Regions from separate parts of the Homo sapiens genome. Here regions 1 and 3 are each linked to region 2. The links come from fine-mapping of genetic effects on gene expression. A gene starts in region 2. Each other region holds a variant in brackets. All regions are shown on one strand. Distances are between the middles of the regions.

Region 1 (6,789 bases), 150 kb after region 2:
CAGAACTTTTGCATCTTCTCCAACTGAAATGCTACTCATTCCACACTAACTCCCCCTTCACTAAACTCTTAATAAATAGCAAGAAGACCTTTCTGTTTCAGCAGAAAACCGTGAGCTCATTTCAGTGAATTATGGGGTTGTAGGCCACTAGAACAAGTGAGAGGAAAAGAGCCACTAACCTGCTTTGTGTGCCAAATCTCTGAGCACCTACTATTTGGATTATATTAAAACCCGCTGAGATTTTGTTTTGTTAAAACTTGGAAATATCTGCTCTGAGCCCAGGTCCTTGCTCAGTTGAGCATGTCATTGTTTTTGAAGCTCTGACTCAGCAGCACTCTAGCTAGCTCTGGGAAGAGGGACTCAGCTGTATGTGACAAACCACACACACAGAGTAGCCTCTCTGTGTCTCTTGGTGGCCAAGAACACCCTGGGGATTTCCAAATGCTTGTTGCTTTTCCTGCAGCTGCAAAGGTGTAGTTAAGAAGGGACACTTGGGTATAAGGAACAACATGCCCTGCCTGAAAGCTGTCTCTTGAATGAAAATAGTTGGACCAAAGGTTAGAGAAATCATGATACAGAGAACATGAGCCAGGAGGTAGCTAAAATGACAGGACTGAAACGTTCGAGAGTCTAAAGTCCCATTGCTTGTACTTGGCCAATGTCCTTCCCGTTATGCCAACAGGACATTTGAACAAGAAAGATTGACTGACCAACTCAAATACACAGTCCCTCTGATAGTTAACATTTCTGGGTCACTCTATAGCTTCTGGAAAGCCTGAAATTACCATGACTTGGCATGACTCTGGCTCATGACAAATTAAATGTGACATTATGTGGTTTCCCCAGAGGAAAAATAATTTGTACCTGCCAGAGTGGCCTGACTGATGCATCTCAGCTGCCATATCCAAGACCGTGAGAGGACTTGGTTAGCTCTTCTAGAGCCCCACCAGTTTCCCCCTGCCTGAGGGAAACTACCACTCTTTGGGTCAGCAGTCTGGGGGATAGTAACCCTGATAGGGTGTTGAATGGTGCTACTGATCAGCTCCAGAGCCATTGCTGGGAGATGATCAATTTCATTCCCGCACCCACCATCGTGCATATGTGTTCTGGAAAAAACTCCTAAGCAAATTTAAATTAATTTTGTTCTTGAGATTTCGGGACATGTTTTCCCCTCCTCCTACCCTCCACTCCACTCCCCTCCCTAAAGTAACTAGAAACACCCAGTGTATCTCAGTTAAACCTGAGATATACCCTCACCTCCAGACAGGAGAAACACAAAGCCATTCTTAACTCCAGAATTGTACCTTCCACTTTCCATCCCACACTAGCCCATTCTAATATGGTTTTTCTTAATCATTCTTTAGACAATAAAATTTTAATATAAAAGTGATGATAGGGTTAAACTAAAGAGTTAGGATGAAATGCATATTACTTTGACAAATTTATTATAATGTGTTTGGAATTGTATAGGGGTTTATATTTTAGTTAATGCTAAGAGACTCATGAAAGCATCTATTCAATTATGAATGACTAAACTTGTTTTAAACATACAGTATCTTGGACATCTACCTTCTTTACACTATGAACCAAGGTAGCTGGAATTGATTGTGTCTGCGTTATTGTCCACAGAGGGATTGGAGGAACAGAGTAGTACTTATACAGAAACGGTGGATCTCTGACAGATACAAAAATAGCACAGTTTAACACTGAAAAGTAGATCCCGGGTCTCCTGACACCAGTTTTGTCCCTTAAGTATATGTATGAGGGTTACCATCATCATCCATCATTATCAGTCTGCCTGACACTTATAGACACCATAAAAATCTGGCATCTTGCAAGAGAGAAGATGACTTCAACAAAAATTTGACAGTAGGTTCAGAAATATAACAACTGACAACTTTCCTATTTATTTAATTAATTTATTTATTTTTTGAGATGGAGTCTTGCCCTGTTGCCCAGGCCTAGAGTGCAATGGCATGATCTTGGCTCACTGCAACCTCCGCCTCCCCAGGTTCAAGTGATTCTCCTGCCTCAGCCTCCTGAGTAGCTGGGATTACAGGTGCCTGCCACAATGCCCAGCTAATTTTTTTTTTTTGAGATGGAGTCTCACTCTGTCGCCCAGGCTGGAGTATAGTGGCACAATCTCGGCTCACTGCAAACTCCACCTCCCGGGTTCATGCCATTCTCCTGCCTCAGCCTCCAGAGTAGCTGGGACCACAGGCACCCACCACCACACCTGGATATTTTTTTAATTTTATAGTAGAGATGGGGTTTCACCGTGTTAGCCAGGATGGTCTTGATCTCCTGACCTTGTGATCTGCCCACCTCGGGCTCCCAAAGTGCTGGAATTACAGGTGTGAGCCACCGTGCCAGCCTAATTTTTGTATTTTTAGTAGAGATGGGGTTTCGCCATGTTGGCCAGGCTGGTCTCGAACTCCTGACCTCAGGTGATCCCCCCGCCTTGGCCTCCCAAAGTGCTGGGATGACAGGTGTGAGTCACCACACCCGGCCAACTTTCTTTTTCTATTGTAAACAAATATGAAATAATAGTGTTTAACAGTTTAGTAGGAAAATAAACCAATAGCTCTCCTAATGCATGGAATGGGGCACCACCTGTATCTTTCCAGCCACTGCCATTAGAACCTTAGAAGTCTTTCCCCATAGTCCAGCATTCTTTGACCTTGCTGAGTGCAAGCGTTTTAGGCCATCTGTGAAGTACATGAGGGATAAGGTAGGAATAAGTACTAGTTTTTCTTTGTTTTGTTTTGTTTTGTTGCGCTTAATTAAATTTCAGAAGAAGAAGAAGAACCAGGGCCGGGTTCTCAGGGCGGTGGCTCACGCCTATAGTCCCAGCACTTTAGGAGGCCGAGGCTGGTGGATAGCTTGAGCTCAGGAGTTCAAGACCTCATCTCTACTAAAAAAGTTTTTTTAAATTAGCTGGGCATGGTGGCACATGCCTGCAGTCTCAGCTATTCCTTAGGCTGCAGTGGGAGGATCACTTGAGCCCAGGAGATCAAGTTTTCAGTGAGCTGCGATGGCACGTAGGTGACAGGGCAAGACCCTGTCTCAAAAACAAACAAAAAATTAAAAGAACCTTCTAGCTTTTGTTTTTTACACAAAAAGAAGCCAGGTTTGAGTTCACCAAAGGTCATGAAGGATGTCGATTTTTCCCATGTCTCATAACCATAGAGATAGGAAGGAGAAAGACGCATTCACCTGCATTAGCCTGTTTCTGTCACACATCCTAGCGTAACTTCCCTTATTTTCTTACTCGCTAATGTAATTGGGTATATTTTTCACTGGGCTTGCTCTTCATCCAATTTTACATAAATGTTCTACAGTCTATTTTCAGAGCCCTGAAACTTTTCAGTGAAGCATTGCAGATACATAGCATCTACCCACCTCAGCATAATTCTAGCTTTCATAATATAAATTCCCTGCCTCAGAAGCTATGGTCTTTTCCTTCAAAGGGATATTGTTAGACAAAATTTTGATAGATCCTGGAAATCTTTTCAGTTAATTCT[G/A]TAAAATGAAAACTGTTATTTTCAATTGCTCCTCACTTGATTCACTGGTATAAAATATTCCTATTACCCTTGTCAGCAAATGTGTATAGAAGAGGATTTTTGTCCCCCTTTTTCTGTCTTTTGTTTAGGTTTTACTTTTCTCACTGCCATTTGGCAAGGCTGTGTAATTTAGGGAGCTCACAAAGATATATGTTTGAGGGGTACCTTTTATCATGTACCAAAGAAAAATTATGGTTTTACTACTCTAGAGAAGCCTTAGAACATTTTGCTGGGCACTTGACTTCCAGTCTGTTTCCTTTGATTGATAAATGATCTAAGACAAGTCACCAGTCCCCTCCAGGTGGTATTTCCTAAAATGTATAGTTGAGTTGGGAGTTGGCAACATAGTTGTTAATGTCCCTTCCAGATCAATGATGGATAAGATTTTGTGTGAAATACCTTGAAAGAAACATTTGCTGCTTGCCTCCTGTGTGTGAAGAGAGCCATGCTGATTATCCTACTTAATCCTCAGGTGATTCCATGCTACTCTTTTAAATTATCACCATTTATATAGATGAGGAAACTAGAAATAGTGAGGATAACTAACTTGTCCAGGGTCACAGAGCTAGTAAGTACCAGTTCAGGGTTCTAATCCAGTCTATGTAACTCTCCAGTCCTAGCTCAGGATGTCTACCCTCTTACAAAACTGTAAGTCATCGTTACTGGTGGTCAAGGATCTCACGTACCTTCTTCCTCTTTGTCTTCCAGGAGATACAATATTCATTATTCTGAGGAAGCAGAAGCTGATCTTCCTGCACTGGTATCACCACATCACTGTGCTCCTGTACTCTTGGTACTCCTACAAAGACATGGTTGCCGGGGGAGGTTGGTTCATGACTATGAACTATGGCGTGCACGCCGTGATGTACTCTTACTATGCCTTGCGGGCGGCAGGTTTCCGAGTCTCCCGGAAGTTTGCCATGTTCATCACCTTGTCCCAGATCACTCAGATGCTGATGGGCTGTGTGGTTAACTACCTGGTCTTCTGCTGGATGCAGCATGACCAGTGTCACTCTCACTTTCAGAACATCTTCTGGTCCTCACTCATGTACCTCAGCTACCTTGTGCTCTTCTGCCATTTCTTCTTTGAGGCCTACATCGGCAAAATGAGGAAAACAACGAAAGCTGAATAGTGTTGGAACTGAGGAGGAAGCCATAGCTCAGGGTCATCAAGAAAAATAATAGACAAAAGAAAATGGCACAAGGAATCACACGTGGTGCAGCTAAAACAAAACAAAACATGAGCAAACACAAAACCCAAGGCAGCTTAGGGATAATTAGGTTGATTTAACCCAGTAAGTTTATGATCCTTTTAGGGTGAGGACTCACTGAGTGCACCTCCATCTCCAAGCACTGCTGCTGGAAGACCCCATTCCCTCTTTATCTATCAACTCTAGGACAAGGGAGAACAAAAGCAAGCCAGAAGCAGAGGAGACTAATCAAAGGCAAACAAAGGCTATTAACACATAGGAAAAAATGTATTTACTAAGTGTCACATTTCTCTAAGATGAAAGATTTTTACTCTAGAAACTGTGCGAGCACAACACACACAATCCTTTCTAACTTTATGGACACTAAACTGGAGCCAATAGAAAAGACAAAAATGAAAGAGACACAGGGTGTATATCTAGAACGATAATGCTTTTGCAGAAACTAAAGCCTTTTTAAGAAATGCCAGCTGCTGTAGACCCCATGAGAAAAGATGTCTTAATCATCCTTATGAAAACAGATGTAAACAACTATATTTCAACTAACTTCATCTTCACTGCATAGCCTCAGGCTAGTGAGTTTGCCAAAACCAAAGGGGGTGAATACTTCCCCAAGATTCTTCCTGGGAGGATGGAAACAGTGCAGCCCAGGTCCCATGGGGGCAGCTCCATCCCAGAGCATTTCTGATAGTTGAACTGTAATTTCTACTCTTAAGTGAGATATGAAGCATTATCCTTTTGTTCAGTTGCCCCGGGCTTTTGAACAGAAGAGTAAATACAGAATTGAAAAAGATAAACACTCAACCAAACAATGTGAAAACGGGTTCTGTAGTATTTGTAAAAAGGCCCGGCCCAGGACCACTGTGAGCTGGAAAAGGGAGAAAGGCAGTGGGAAAAGAGGTGAGCCGAAGATCAATTCGACAGACAGATGGTGTGTATGCCCCTCCCTGTTTGACTTCACACACACTCATAACTTTCCAAATGAAACCCCACAGTATAGCGCATATTTTCGATATTTTTGTGAATTCCAAAAGGAAATCACAGGGCTGTTCGAAATATTGGGGGAACACTGTGTTTCTGCATCATCTGCATTTGCTCCCCAAGCAATGTAGAGGTGTTTAAAGGGCCCTCTGCTGGCTGAGTGGCAATACTACAACAAACTTCAAGGCAAGTTTGGCTGAAAACAGTTGACAACAAAGGGCCCCCATACACTTATCCCTCAAATTTTAAGTGATATGAAATACTTGTCATGTCTTTGGCCAAATCAGAAGATATTCATCCTGCTTCAAGTCAGCTTCAGAAATGTTTTAAAAGGGACTTTAGCTCTGGAACTCAAAATCAATTTATTAAGAGCCATATTCTTTAAAAAAAAAAAGCTGGATAATATTCTCTGTAATATTTCAGTCCTTTACAAGCCAAATACATGTGTCAATGTTTCTAGTATTTCAAAGAAGCAATTATGTAAAGTTGTTCAATGTGACATAATAGTATTATAATTGGTTAAGTAGCTTAATGATTAGGCAAACTAGATGAAAAGATTAGGGGCTTCCACACTGCATAGATTACACGCACATAGCCACGCATACACACACAGACACACAGATGTGGGGTACACTGAACTTCAAAGCCCAAATGAATAGAAACACATTTTCTGGCTAGCAGAAAAAAACAAAACAAAACTGTTGTTTCTCTTTCTTGCTTTGAGAGTGTACAGTAAAAGGGATTTTTTCGAATTATTTTTATATTATTTTAGCTTTAATTGTGCTGTCGTTCATGAAACAGAGCTGCTCTGCTTTTCTGTCAGAGATGGCAAGGGCTTTTTCAGCATCTCGTTTATGTGTGGAATTTAAAAAGAATAAAGTTTTATTCCATTCTGTGTGAATGGTTTGAGCAGTGAACAAAGAATCCATGCAAACCAAGTCATGACTGGAAGAAATGGGGAGTGGGGGACAGTGCAGGGGAGGAAAGCTGTTACATCTATGTTAAATGATTGTGAGCAGTCTATAATGTCTTGATGT
Region 2 (6,789 bases):
CTGGCCAACATGGTGAAACCCTGTCTGTACTAAAAATACAAAAATTAGCTGGGCATGGTGGCACATTCCTGTAATCCCAGCTACTTGGAAGGCTGAGACAGGAGACTCACTTGATCCCAGGAGGCAAAGGTTGCAGTGAGCCGAGATCGCGCCACTGCACTCCAGCCTGGGCAACAGAGGGAGACATCATCTCAAAAAAAAAAATAATTCTGGTGAATTAATGGTGTGGATTTAAAATTGTGATATATGCTGGGTGCCTATAGTCCTAGCGTGGAAAACATAACAAGTCCCCATCTCTAAAAAATAAATGAAATTATCATATAGGCTGCCAAATTGCTTTCCATACAGAGTCACCAGTTTTCAAAGTCACTGACAGTGCTTGTTTGTTTTTGAGATAAGGTCTCACTCTGTCACCCAAGCCGGACTGCAGTGGTGTGATCATGGCTCACTGCAGCCTTGACCTCCCAGGCTCAAGCTATCCTCCCATCTCAGCCTCCAGAGTAACTGGGATTACAGGCATGTACCACCACACCTGGCTAATTTTTAATTTTTTGTAGAGATGGAGCCTCACTATGTTGCCCAGTCTGGTCTCTAGCAATTGTCTTGCCTCAGCCACCCAAAGTGGATTTTCTGTCTTGATTCCTTTCTCACTTCTTACCTTAATTTATTTGATGAATCATTCACTTTACAAATATTTATTGATTATTCACAGGCTCAGGCACCGTGCTAAAATGGTTCTTTCTTATCTGGCCACACCTATCTTCCAGCCCAATCTTGCCAAGAGTTTTGGCCTGGGCCTTACTTCAAAGTGACGTAGACTTGTACTGTAGAGGTCTCTAGAAAGACAACCCTTGGCTGGGCATGGTGGCTCATGCCTGTAATCCCAGAACTTTGGGAGGCTGAGACAGGTGGATCACAGCCAGCCTGGCCAACATGGTGAAACCCCATCTCTACTAAAAACACAAAAATTAGGCGGGCGTGGTGGTGCTTGCCTATAATCCCAGCTACTGGGGAGGCTGAGGCAAGAGAACCATTTGAACCTGGGAGGCGGAGGTTGCAGTGAGCCGAGTTTGCACCACTGCACTCCAGCCTGGGCAACAGGGCGAGACTCCTCCATCTCAAAAAAAAAAAGAAAAAGAAAAAAGAAAGACAACCCTTAATGGGGGAGATGAGGACAGTCCCTACACAGAATCTTTGGCAGTGTCAATGTATACATTAATTTGCTAATCAACTAGGCTAGCCCTTTAATCTATATATTGTACTGGATTTTAAAAATTATTTCTTTACTTTCTCATTAGACCTTCCTCTTTTTTTTTTTTGTTTGTTTGTTTGGAGACAGAGTCTCCCTCTGTCGCCCAGGCTGGAGTGCAGTGGCAGAATTTTGGCTCACTGCAACCTCTACCTCACGGGTTCAAGCGATTCTCCTGCCTCAGCCTCCTGAGTAGCTGAGGTTACAGGTGCCCGCCACCACGCCTGCCTGATTTTTATATTTTTAGTAGAGACGGAGTTTCACCATGTTGGCCAGGCTGTTTTGAACTCCTGACCTCAGGTGATCCGCCCACCTCGGCCTCCCAAAGTGCTGGGATTACTTCTGTGAGCCACCACCGCGGCCGGTCCCTTCCTCCTTTAAAAATTTTTCTCCCAGTTCCCACTTTTTGTGGGTTAGAGGCATCTAAATTGAATGAAAGTACCCTTTTTGGACTACTGGGGAGGTGGGGGGATGTTCTCAGAAGGGGAATTTTCTTTCTGGTCCTAATATCCACCTAATTTTTAAAAGCAGGGCTCCTTATTATTTTGTAAAGTTTACAATTACATCATTAGATACTTCCATGTCTCATATTTCATTTTTCCAAACTCTTGGGGGAAATGAGTGGAGGGATGGATGGAATAGAAAATAGTTTTTCCTCTTGGAGGCTGAGGGCCCAGTAGGGGTCAACAGTACATTCAGCCCTCTCCTCACATATTCTGTTCTACCTACAAGTACAGCAAGTAAAGCCAAATTTCTCATGCATGCAAATAAAGTTTTTGCATTTGGCCAGTCGGTCCAGTTCTCCTGTCAGCTTCCTTCCCCACTCTGCCTCTGTTCATTAATCCCCCCCTTCCCGGTACCTAAACCCTCCACCTAACCCAGCCCTTTCTTCCACTTCCGGCTACTAGCCTCTCTCGCCTATCCACTATCCTCACACTCAGCATCCCCTGTCTGTACGAGATTAAGGAGCTCTGCCGTCCGCAGGGCCTGGGTTAGCGTGAATCTAAGCCAGAGCTCCCGGGTGGGGGTGGGGGTAGGGGTGGGGGTGGTCCCAGAGGTAGGGCGAGGAGGTGGGAAGCGTATTCCCTTCACTGGTGATCTCAACGTAGATTTGCCCGGAGTTCTCTTGCAAGAGAGCTGGCAGGTTTTACTATTTCCCAATCGTTTACTCGCCAAGCTCTCGGGTCCACGCGCCGCGGGGATGCGCCCTGCAAGCTGAAACTTCATTCAAAGCAAGGCGGCCCACGAGGTTGGGCTTAGGGGATCTGGATGACCTCCAGGCCACTTCCTTTCTCTCTGCGCCCTTCCCCCACTCTTCCAACCACCTTCGCTGTAAACAAAACTGTCCCCCCCGGGCGGAGAGAGGTCGCGCTCTTTCGCACACTCCCTCGCCAAGGGTTAATTTCTCAAATCGCACGAGGGGGAGGAGATTTCCCTGTAGACGAGTAAAAAGGGTGATGGACAAACGTGCGGGCACTAAGACCGCAAGGCATTCATTTCCTCCTACGGTGGATGCGGACGCCGGGAGGAGGAGAGCCCCAGAGAGAGGAGCTGGGAGCGGAGGCGCAGGCAATGCTCAGCCCTGGATGTAGCTGAGAGGCTGGGAGAAGAGACGACCGCTGGAGACCGAGCGGCGTGGGGAAGACCTAGGGGGGTGGGTGGGGGAAGCAGACAGGAGAACACTCGAAATCAAGCGCTTTACAGATTATTTTATTTTGTATAGAGAACACGTAGCGACTCCGAAGATCAGCCCCAATGAACATGTCAGTGTTGACTTTACAAGAATATGAATTCGAAAAGCAGTTCAACGAGAATGAAGCCATCCAATGGATGCAGGAAAACTGGTACGTGATGCTTTCGCCTGATACTGTTCCCGGGAGCCCTGCGCGTCTTCCCGGAGTGCCTTAATGTCGGTATTCCCTGCCTGGGCGTGAATGGAGCGATGAATCGCGGGCAGCCAGCTGATCGCTGAGTTCTCGGGTCTCCCGGGTGCAGGAGACGCTGGGGGGGGGGGGGTACATGAAGCGCGAGGTCTGTGGGTGCCCCTGTGTGAACCGCGGCTACATAGGCATCTTTTATATAGATTATATAACACAGAACATATGTGTGTGCACAGGGTGATGTCTGCGCGACAGGGAAGGCGGGAGAGATGCCACAGTCCAGATCGCCTACCTGTGCTCCCCTCCCCTCCCCCGGTTTTCATCTAGATTTGGGTTTTCTCGCTTGGCCTCTCCCGCAACCGGAGTGTGAAAGGCAGTGGAGGGAGGACCTTGTCTCCTGTTGCCTTTAACCCTCTCCCGCCCGCCGCCCTTGGCCCTGGTCCTCGCTGTCTCTCCATCCCTCGTGTCCTTCCTTTCTCCTTGCAGCGCTCCTACTTCACCGTCCTCCTCTGTCTGCCGCTCCTCAGGCGGATGCCCCCTTTTTAGTACCCCTTTCCCCACGCGGTTCCCTTTCCGGTTTCATAGAGAGACCGGGTGGGAGGGAGGAGGGGACAATGAAAACAGTAATAAATGAATGAACCCGAGCGAGTGGAGCCACGCCATTATTAAGTTTCTGTTTTACGGAAACGCCTTTTGGACACACTTCTAATTCTGTGCGTAGCTGCTGATTGGAGTTCAGGCACACAGATTAAAAGCCCCTCCGTCTGCAGAGTCCTTAGGGGCTCTTCCCTAGGAAACTAATAATCAGGGAAAACACCTTTCTTGTTTACTGTAGTCCCCCCGCCAGACCTTTTGAAAATCCCTGTGTGGGAGGCGATCCAGTGTCACCTTGCAATATTTAACAGAGGAGGGTGTGCTCATCTCGCTTCTTGTAGACAGGGTTGTGGCAGAGGCATTCCTCTCCTCCCCTTAACTTCGGGTCTGGCGATCTGTAAAGTTCAAGCCCAACGCACCCCGGAGCTAGGCAAGGGGCCGGCAGCCCGGGGGATGGCTTGACCGGGGAGGGTCGGGCCGCAGGGTCTCCCGGGAGCCGGGGGATTCCGCCCGCCGCGTGCGCGAGCGCGCGTGCCCCGCGCCCTCCCGCCTGCCCTCTTCAACTGGAAACCAGAAACGCCGGCGCGCCTGTGGCCTGGGCGGGTTGGTGCAGTAGGAGCTGGTGCCACGGGGCCGCAGCTGCGAAAAGGGGGTTTCAACTTCCTGTCCTCCAGCCCCCTGGAGTCGCCGGCCAGTGTCGGGAGGCCCGGCCGCCGCTTCCTTCTCCTCCCGCCCGGCCGGAGCGCGCCCACTCCCAGCTTCCCGCGGGCTGGTCCGGGCCCCAATGGCCATTTGCGGCGGCTGCCGGGCGGAGCCCGCCTCCTGGGCCGCGCGCACCGGCGGGGCAGGCCTGCTTGGGGTGAGCTGCGGCGTGGCTGGTGGCGGCGGTGGGCTAGGGGCCCAAGGGCCGCGTCTGGCCCGAGCCGGAGCCTAAGAGGCGGGGACGCGGGCCGCTCGGAAGGACTGGAAGTGCAGCAGCCACACAGGCACAGGGCTGGTGCCCTCCCGGGCCGCTGAGGCCAGGGGGTGCAGGGGTGGGTCCGGAAGGAGGTTGGACACTAAGGGTCGAGACCGCAGATAGACCTCGGCGTTTCGGGGCAGCCGAGGCCCCTCGAGCCCCACCGCCCGGGGTCCTTCTCTGGATGCACTTCCTCCTCCCGCTTAGGGGGTGGTGCTGGAGGCGGGGAGGGGGCGGTGGCCGGAGCCGGCGGGCGCCGGAACCGCGCTGCTGGCTAGCCCCGGGCCCGGGTCTTCTCCGCACATGTTTGTCATATCCTCCAGCCGGCCTGTTCGGGCCCACAGTCCTCCCGCATTAGCCTGTGTGGTCAGTGTGGTCAGCATTTGCTTCTGTGCCGAATCTCTGACTTGCTGCGTCCTGGTTTAACCTGCTCTTCCGGAGTCCGCTTTCCCTCGCTTTGCTGGCTGACCCCATTCACTGTACGCCCGCCATTCCTAGCCCACTGCAGTCGATACTGCCTCTTATTTACTTGTTGCTTTTTCTCTGAGGCCACTTCCTAGGCCTGCTTCAGGTACCATTTCCCGCCTCTTCTCTCCATTCACTCAGTACTGAGCCAGACAGGTCTCAGCCCTCGTGGGACTGAAAATGACAAAAATGTGCCAACGTATCTACTCCTGTTAGGTTCTGACCACTGTTTCCTCCTAGTTCTTTATCTGTACCTTTCTTCTGGCAATATCCTTTACTGTTATATACATGGTTATTAACTTACAGACCATCAGCTCTTCAGGTTACGGTTCTTGTCATCCCACTCTTGATTCTGCAAAGCACCTAGCAGAGTGCTTTGCATAAGGCACATTCTTGAGAAAATGTCCAGTGAGTTGAAATGGTGATTGGTGCCCATTTTATTGCCAGCACTACTCGTTAATACCCGAAGGTTAACAGGCTAGAACTTGCATACCGTGGCAGAGTCACATCTTGGGATTTTTCCCTTCCTGGCTTCTGCTCTCTGTTGATGTTATGTTCTTAGATTGCTTATTGCAGTCAAAGAACCCTGCTGGCTGTTACCCCTCCCTTGCAACTCTTCCTGACCCTAATTGTCTTACTTTCATGTTTTTTTTTAAATGCCAGATTTTGTGCATTTCTCCCAATATCCCAGGGTGCCCAATTTTATCTCTCCTCCCTCCCCAAAAACTGTACAGCCAAAAAGACTTTAAACACTTTTTAAAATTTAATTTTATTAGCCGGGTGTGGTGGCTCCTGCCTGTAATCCCAGCACTTTGGGAGGCTGAGGTGGGTGGATTACCTGACGACAGGAGTTCGAGACCAGCCAGGCCAATATGGTGAAACCCCATCTCTACTAAAAATACAAAAAAATTAGCCGAGCGTGGTGGCGGGTGCCTGTAATCCCAGCTACTCGGGAGGTTGAGGCAGGAGAATTGCTTGAACCCGGGAGGTTCAAATTAAAGCTTTTAGTTTTTATTTTTAATAGAATCCAGCTAATGCAGGACAAAAAGTCTTGAACCAGATTTTCTTTTCACTCCCTTTTTAATAGGAGAAGGGAACTCCATAACCAAGGCTTAGACCCTCTTGAGGAGAGAGGAACTTGAGGAAACCATAAAATCTTACCTTTTTCAGACTCATTAACTTAAAATGGTTTGAAATAGCTTCTGGAGGAAAAACATGATATAGTGAAGCTTCTACTCTGTCTTTTGGGAATTTATGGTTGTCCTTATAAATCTCTTCTTAGTAACAGGCAAAACTTGTTAATTTAGAGAATTAAAACATCCTCTCTCAAAAGTGAACTACATTGGCTTTTGAAGAACTGTGAGAATGGCCAGGAGTAGTATTTTGCCAGTATGCTGCCTTTGCTAACTAGCATCATTTAAGAGGACCTAAAATAAGAATACTTTATTAAACATACGCTATAATCCATACTTACTAACCATAGCGCAAATTAATGTTAACATACCCTATAATCCATACTTACTAACCATAGCACGTGTTAATGGAATGGGGCCCGACTTTTGGAGTAGCATTTGTATAAACCCTAAAGGGTTCAACTGAGGCTAGTTTTCAAGTTTATTGCTGCTTTAATGAATCATTAACCT
Region 3 (6,789 bases), 32 kb after region 2:
AACCCCAAAACTCTGTTGGGGTCGGGTGCAGTGGCTCACACCTGTAATTCTAGCACTTTGGGAGGCCAAGGTGGGTGGACCCTGTCTCTACCAAAAATACAAAAATTAGCCAGGTGTGGTGGCATACACCTGCAGTCCCAGCAACTTGGGAGGCTGAGATGGGAGAATTGCTTGAGCCCAAGAGGTCTAGGCTACAGTAAGCCATGATGGTGCCATTGCAAACCAGCCTGGGTGACAGAGTGAGACCCTTTCTCAAAGAAAATAACATTTAAAAAAGACTTACTGGACGTTTAATAAGGATATTATTAACTAATAATCATTGAGCTTACCACGTACCCACTAAAGGCTTCATGAACATTAATTTAATTAACCCTCCATTTTATGAAGTAGGCTTTGTGATTGGGCATGTCTTGGAGATGAGGTTAAGTAACTTGGAAAAGGTGGGACACCTGGTGATTGGCAGAGTGAGGCTTCAAACCCAGGCAGTCTAGGTCCACACTGCCTGTCCACAGAGTCTGGGTCTCTCCTGCTTTGGCTTATGACGTCAGCACCTACTGGGAAAATTACAGAAACCATTTTCAAAGGTGATATTTTGAAAAGCATATGGTGGGGCTCATTTTGTTTAAATGAGCTCTGCACAATGAAAGCACGTGAGAGCAGTTTTTGAAAAAGTTCTGATTGCATCCATTGAATTTGACTTTTTTTTTTTTTCTTTTTTAGACAGTCTTGCTCTGTCGCCCAGGCTGGAGTACAATGGCACGATCTTGGCTCACAGCAGCCTCTGCCTCCTGGGTTCAAGTGATTTTTGTGCCTCAGTCACCCAAGTAGCTGGGATTACAGGCATGCAACACCATGCCTAGCTAACTTTTGCATATTTTTTTAGTAGAGACGGGGTTTCGCCTTGTTGCCCAAGCCGGTCTCGAACTCTGGGCTTCCAGCAATCTGCCCACCTCAGACTCCCAAAGTGCTGGGATTACAGGCATGAGCCATCACACTGGCCTGAATTTGACCCTTACTCTAATGATTTATAGCCATATAATTCTCATGCAATAAGCTAAAAATACACCTAAAAATGATTTACTCTCAAAGGGTTTTAACTTTTTTTCATTGAATCTCTTTTATGTTCACTTAAATTTTGGCTCTGTTCATAAATTGATACAAAGACAAAATTTCCACTAAAATATTAATCTTAAGTAGTAGACGTTTTCTAACTATACCTTCCAATTGGAATTAAGCATTTAATCTAAAATTATATATCAAAAATACAAGAAAGAACTTCCTTAATTGCCTGGATATGTTTCTGCCTCTCAAGGCCTCAGAAAGTTTTGTACAAACTGTTAGAATAGCCCTAATCATGGAGATAGGTGTTTTATTTTTTCTCTCCAAAAGCATAAGAGAGGTTGGGTGCAGCAGCTCACGCCTGTAATCCCAGCACTTTGGGAGGCCAGGGTGGGAGGATGGCTTGAGGCCAGGAGTTTGAGACCAGCCTGAGCAGCACAGGGAGACCCTGTCTCTACATACAAACATACATACATACATACATACATACATACATACATACATACATACATACATACATAACTGAGGTGGTGGCAGGCACCCTGTAGTCCCAGCTACTTGTGGAAGCTGAGGATCATTGCACCACTGCACTCCAGCCTGGGCAACAGAGTGAGACTCTGCCTCAAGAAAATAAATAAAATTTATAATGTTCCCCCTTCACTCCCCTCTCTGCAACCAAAAAAACATCCTTTAGTAACTCTTATGTAACCATTAAAACTATATTATAGAAGAATATATCTTGACAAAAAAAATGTATACCACATGTTGCAGAAAACTCTGCTTATGAAACAGCATGTATAATAACAAGGCCAATTTGTAAACACACACAGAGAGAGACATATTTACAGTTAGTATAAGGTTAAGTACTTAACGCTGTATGTACTAAAACACAAGTCCTTTTACTGTGCATGTAAAAATACTCTAATAGCGATTACATTTTGAAGATGGGATAAAGTTTTTATTCCTGAGAACCAGAAGTGTGTCTCAATGCACCTAATATTTTTGCCAGTGGAGAGATACTGAAACCCTGTGATCTTCAGCTACTGTGTGCATTCAGACTGTTTGGTCTTCTTGGGTCAAGTCAGCTGGTGATTACTAAATGATGAGAGTGTGCCTGACATGCAGGAGACAGGTGAGAAGACAAAGAAATAGAAGGCAATGTCCTAGCATTGGCAGACAGACAGACCCTCTGTATATATTTCAACTTATTTGGATCACAGTCTGTTTAGGAAGGCAGATGTACATGCAAAATACAGTAGAATGCTACAGAAAAAGAACAAATATTCCAGTGCTGGAATATAGTATTATAGTAACTATAGTATAGAAAATCACTATGTGCTAAGAAATTTAGAAACACTCCAGCAAAAGGCAGGGACTTTGAGAGCTAATAGTTGGGTTGATGAAAAAGGAAGACGGAGTTTCCTTTCATGGTGGTAGCACCAGAATACTCATGATGTCTTATATGCTAACCATGAGGGCTGACCATGCTGAGATTAACAGGCAGTGTTCATTGCCTTCTGGCAGCAAGGGCAAAAGTGGAAACACAAGAATTTTTTCTTTTTTTTGAGACGGAGTTTCACTGTCACCAGGCTGGAGTGCAGTGGCGCGATCTCGGCTCATTTACAACCCCTCCTCCCGGGTTCAAGCGATTCTCCTGCCTTAGCCCTTCTAGTAGCTGGGACTACAGGGCGCGTACCACCACACCCAGGTAATTTTTATATTTTTAGTAGAGATGGGGTTTCACGGTTGTTGGCCGGGATGGTCTCGATCTCTTGACCTCGTGATCCACCTGCCTTGGCCTCCCAAAGTGCTGGGATTACAGGCGTGAGCCACCGCGCCTGGCTGAAACACAAGAATTTAAGAGAATTCTTGTTATCTGAAAAGAAAGGTGATGTCTCATTATTGCTCAAGTAAGTTAAGAACAAACCAAGGTCCTAGCCCAAAGACAACAACATTTGAAGGAAAATCAGGGATATAATGTCAAAGAACACTGCAGTCCAGGGGCGAAATGAATGTGCCTTGAGCAACTTCTCTAGGATCTCACTTGATAGCAGGCTGGGATTTATAGTACCCAGGGGAAGGCTGACAGTATCTTTCCTCCAGATCAGCTCTGAGCTGGGCTTTTGTTGATAAGCTGTCCCAGGAGTGCTGAGGCTCTGTCACTGACAGAGGAGGCAGATGTATTGAAAGCAGGATCGTGGGTTGATAATTTGTTAGGGATGTAGAGAAGCCTAACTGGTTTTCTTACGTGGAAAAGACCACCCTCTTTTCCCACTTCCCAGATGTGCTAAACTCTTCTGGCAGAGGATATAGGATTGTCCTTGGGGAATTAGCCTTGGGTTCACTCCAATGCATGGGTAAATGTTTGGTTTTGCAAGGCAGGTGTTACCTGGCCAGCTCCACATACTTTATTACAAAAATCCTCCTGTTAGTTCTGACAGGAATGCATCATAATTGTTATTTTATAGTTGAGGAAGCTGACTCTCAAAGAAGTGATTAACTCATCTCTGTGTGTGATTCAGATGAGATTAGAACCGCCCAGCTCCTGAGACCATGCTACTTCCTGCCTACCACAGCCACATGTGCTACAGAGAACAAAGCTGAAGTGCAGGCTGCTGTGTCTCTGAGCTAGACAACCTGAGCTCATCCCTCCTGTTTCTTGCAGTGCTATTAAAATGGAGGATTTGATGAGCAGCAGTAGCTGAGAGGAGAATCAGCCTGGCCTGACTAAGGTTTATGTGGGGTTTGAGGAATAAAGTTGGGTTGTGAGGGTCGATTGGAAGCTTGGAAGCCAGGCTAAGGAGTTGGAGTAGGTCTGCTAGACAGGAAGGAACCACAAAATCAGGAACATAATGGTGGAAGGGCCTCCTGTAAATTGTCGATACTTAACTATTTTGGCCTATGAATGGCAATAGCACATGGTTCCACTAAACAGGTGCCCTGGTATTGTTTTCTGTGAGAGGATAATGGAGAGGGTTGCTTATAGTTTGTAGATATCTAGCAAATGGTCTGTTTTGCTAGTCCAGCTAGTCAGAAACCAGTCCTCTTTTTGAAGAATAGAGATCAAACCTGCTCTACAAGCTTATATGTTTACCACAATTTGGGTGGCATGATAAAGACTAAATGCACAGAAAGGCCACATACCACATTACATTCAGGAAATCCTTTCTTAGTTGGGTGTGGTGGGGTGCA[C/T]GTGTAGTCCCAGCTCCTCGAGAGGTTGAGGTGGGAGGATTGCTTGAGCCTGGGGGGCAGAGGTTGTAGTGAGCTGTGATTGTGCTACTGCACTCCAACCTGGGCAACAGAGTGAGACTCTGTCTCAAAAAAAAGAAATTCCCCAAAACAAGAAATTCTTTCATCAGAAATAAATGAGCAGCCTACCAACCCACCTGCCTTCCAACCTGAGTGTTTTTTTTTTTTTCTTTTTTTTTTTTTTTTTGAGACAGGGTCCCACTTTCACCCAGGCTGGAGTGCAGTGGCGTGATCATGGCTCATTGTAGCCTTGACCTCCCTGGGCTCAAGCGGTCCTCCCACCTCATCCTCCTGAGTAGCTGGGACTACAGGTGCATGCCACCACACCGGGCTAATTTTTCTATTTTTTGTAGAGATGGGCTTTCGCCACGTTGCCTCAGCTTGTTTCTGCCTTGGCTTCCCAAAGTGCTGGGATTACAGGCATGAGCCACCTCACCCGGCTGTGCTTGCTTTCTTGTGACAAATGTTCATGGCATCTTGTGGCAGACTTATGAAAGCTGAGTTAGGTCAAAGTGTTTCCTTAGTGCCTAGCTCAGAATACTCATGCTATACAAACCGTTTTACTTTTTCCTTTCCTAGGGTGGCCTTGGCTTCATCTTCCCTCACCTTAACTTGTCATCAGGGCAGCAGTGTATCAAACTCTGGGACCTGTGGATTCAGACACAGTTTCAATTCTGCCTTTGCTACTTAATGACTTGGTGAACTTGAGCACATTCATTAACCTCCCTAGGCCCCCATTTCTAAGTGTGAAATTGAGATAATCAAATTAGGCTGTAGTAATAATTAAACTAGTTAAGGTGTGTCAATGGCTTACAAAATGTCCAGCACTTTCTAGGCTCTCCATGAAAAGTAGCTTTTACTGGCATGACTCTCAGCAGATATTTTAGTATTATTTTGCTTTCAACTGAGTAATGAATTCCTAGCCAACATTTTTGAACTTCTCATTACACATTCAGAAATGTCATGTCACAACCAGGGCTAAGAACTTTTCATTGCTCCCAAATTGCCTGTCACTATGACTCAGATTTACCCACCTGATAAGGAAGATTCCTTGACCTTAACTCACCATTCGATCTTACAGTTAGTTCTCCCATTGCTCTATAAGTATCTTATGACCCTGGCAAATTAAACCACTGGAATATCTCTCTTCTTTCTCTATTTCTGAAACTTAGAAAGCCCAACTCAGTGCTGCCACCTTCATACAACCTTTTAAGGTTTTGAACTTTTAATCTTAAACTCTTCCATTTTTGCTTTTCATTTGGCAGTGGTAGATTTTCTCATATTAAAGTCAGTTGTGACTTGTATATCACCCTTCTAGCATTTTATACTCATTGATGATAAGACTTGGCCTTCATCCCAGTCTGCTACACTATGCGGTCAGTCCATAACTGTTAAATTTCAGTGACTCAGTTTGATGAATATTTATTGAGGAGCCTGTATTTGCCAGACTCTGTTCCAGGCACAAGGCCGCTGTTCTCAGAGACCGTTCATACCACTAGGACACAAACACTAAACATGTAAACAAGTATATAGACAAAATAACATTAGATGTTGCTAACTGCTATAAAGAAAATAGTGTGATAGGAGGTGACTTGGGGCCAGAGGGAGCTGTTTTAGCTAGGGGGTCAGGGAAAGCCTTACTAAAGGATTGGCATCTGACCTAGTAGCAAATGAGAAGACCATGTTAGCCCTGGGCCCATCTAGGAGAAGAGAGATCCAGATAGGACACAACAAATACAAAGCCCCCTCAGGTGAACTGTGTATGGCTTCGCACCCAAGTAGGCTTCTGCTTTCTGTTTTGTGTCTGAATACCTCAGATATTGATTGCACATTTGAATTGTAGTTTGGAGTTCATATATTCTCAGTGTGATTCTGTACTATTTTTATCTAAATGATTGGGTCTTTCTTCATTCACAGGGACTGATTTTCCCCTACATAGTCTTGGACACAGACCATTTAGTTCAAACCCCAGCTGCACCACTGACTATCTGGGTGACCTCAAGTAAATTGTTCACTCCTGAAGACTCAGTTTTCTCTTCATCAATGAGTGTCCCAATAACTGCTTTGCAGAGTTGTGAAAATCTAATTAAATAATGTCTATTAACTAGTATGTAGTAGAAGCTCAGTAAACAGTGGAATTTATTATGTTGCATATCACATTTGTGTACCTTAAAATTTGGCGTACTTCAGCACATTCATTAACCTCCTGTAGGGAGGCAGGAGGAAAATGGCAACTTTAATTTTCTGGGGAAAACAGTCATCCAAAATATCTATATATTCAGGCCTGGCACAGTTGTTCACACCTGTAATCCCAGCACTTTGGGAGGCTGAGGTGGGTGGGATTGCATGAGCCTAGGAGTTGGAGACTAGCTTGGGCAACATAGCAAAACCCTGTATCCAAAAAATAGAAAAAAAATTAGGCATAGTGGCATGTGCCTGTAGTCTCAACAACTCAGAAGGCTGAGGTGGGAGGATCACCTG

What was found. PIP is the estimated chance that this variant, and not a neighbour inherited with it, causes the effect.
Region 1: its variant is fine-mapped to the expression of ELOVL6 in whole blood (INTERVAL, PIP 0.93).
Region 3: its variant is fine-mapped to the expression of ELOVL6 in whole blood (TOPMed, PIP above 0.99).

What each region holds. Positions count from the first base shown.
Region 1 is chr4:110,049,245-110,056,033 of GRCh38, reverse strand. It overlaps ELOVL6 (ELOVL fatty acid elongase 6), which reads left to right. Exons shown (of 4, transcript NM_024090.3): 4 at 4,272-6,789. The coding sequence ends at 4,696. Among named protein-coding and RNA genes, the nearest start is that of EGF, 140 kb to the right of the region's middle. RefSeq lists enhancers at 163-222, 633-682, 3,845-5,044. The variant G/A (reference allele first, on the strand shown) is at 3,525.
Region 2 is chr4:110,194,551-110,201,339 of GRCh38, reverse strand. It overlaps ELOVL6 (ELOVL fatty acid elongase 6), which reads left to right and starts at 2,725. Exons shown (of 4, transcript NM_024090.3): 1 at 2,725-3,093. The coding sequence starts at 3,005. RefSeq lists enhancers at 2,352-3,144, 4,733-5,027 and silencers at 4,059-4,688, 4,889-4,998.
Region 3 is chr4:110,162,445-110,169,233 of GRCh38, reverse strand. The region is part of intron 1 of ELOVL6 (ELOVL fatty acid elongase 6); the gene reads left to right. Among named protein-coding and RNA genes, the nearest start is that of ELOVL6, 33 kb to the left of the region's middle. The variant C/T (reference allele first, on the strand shown) is at 4,252.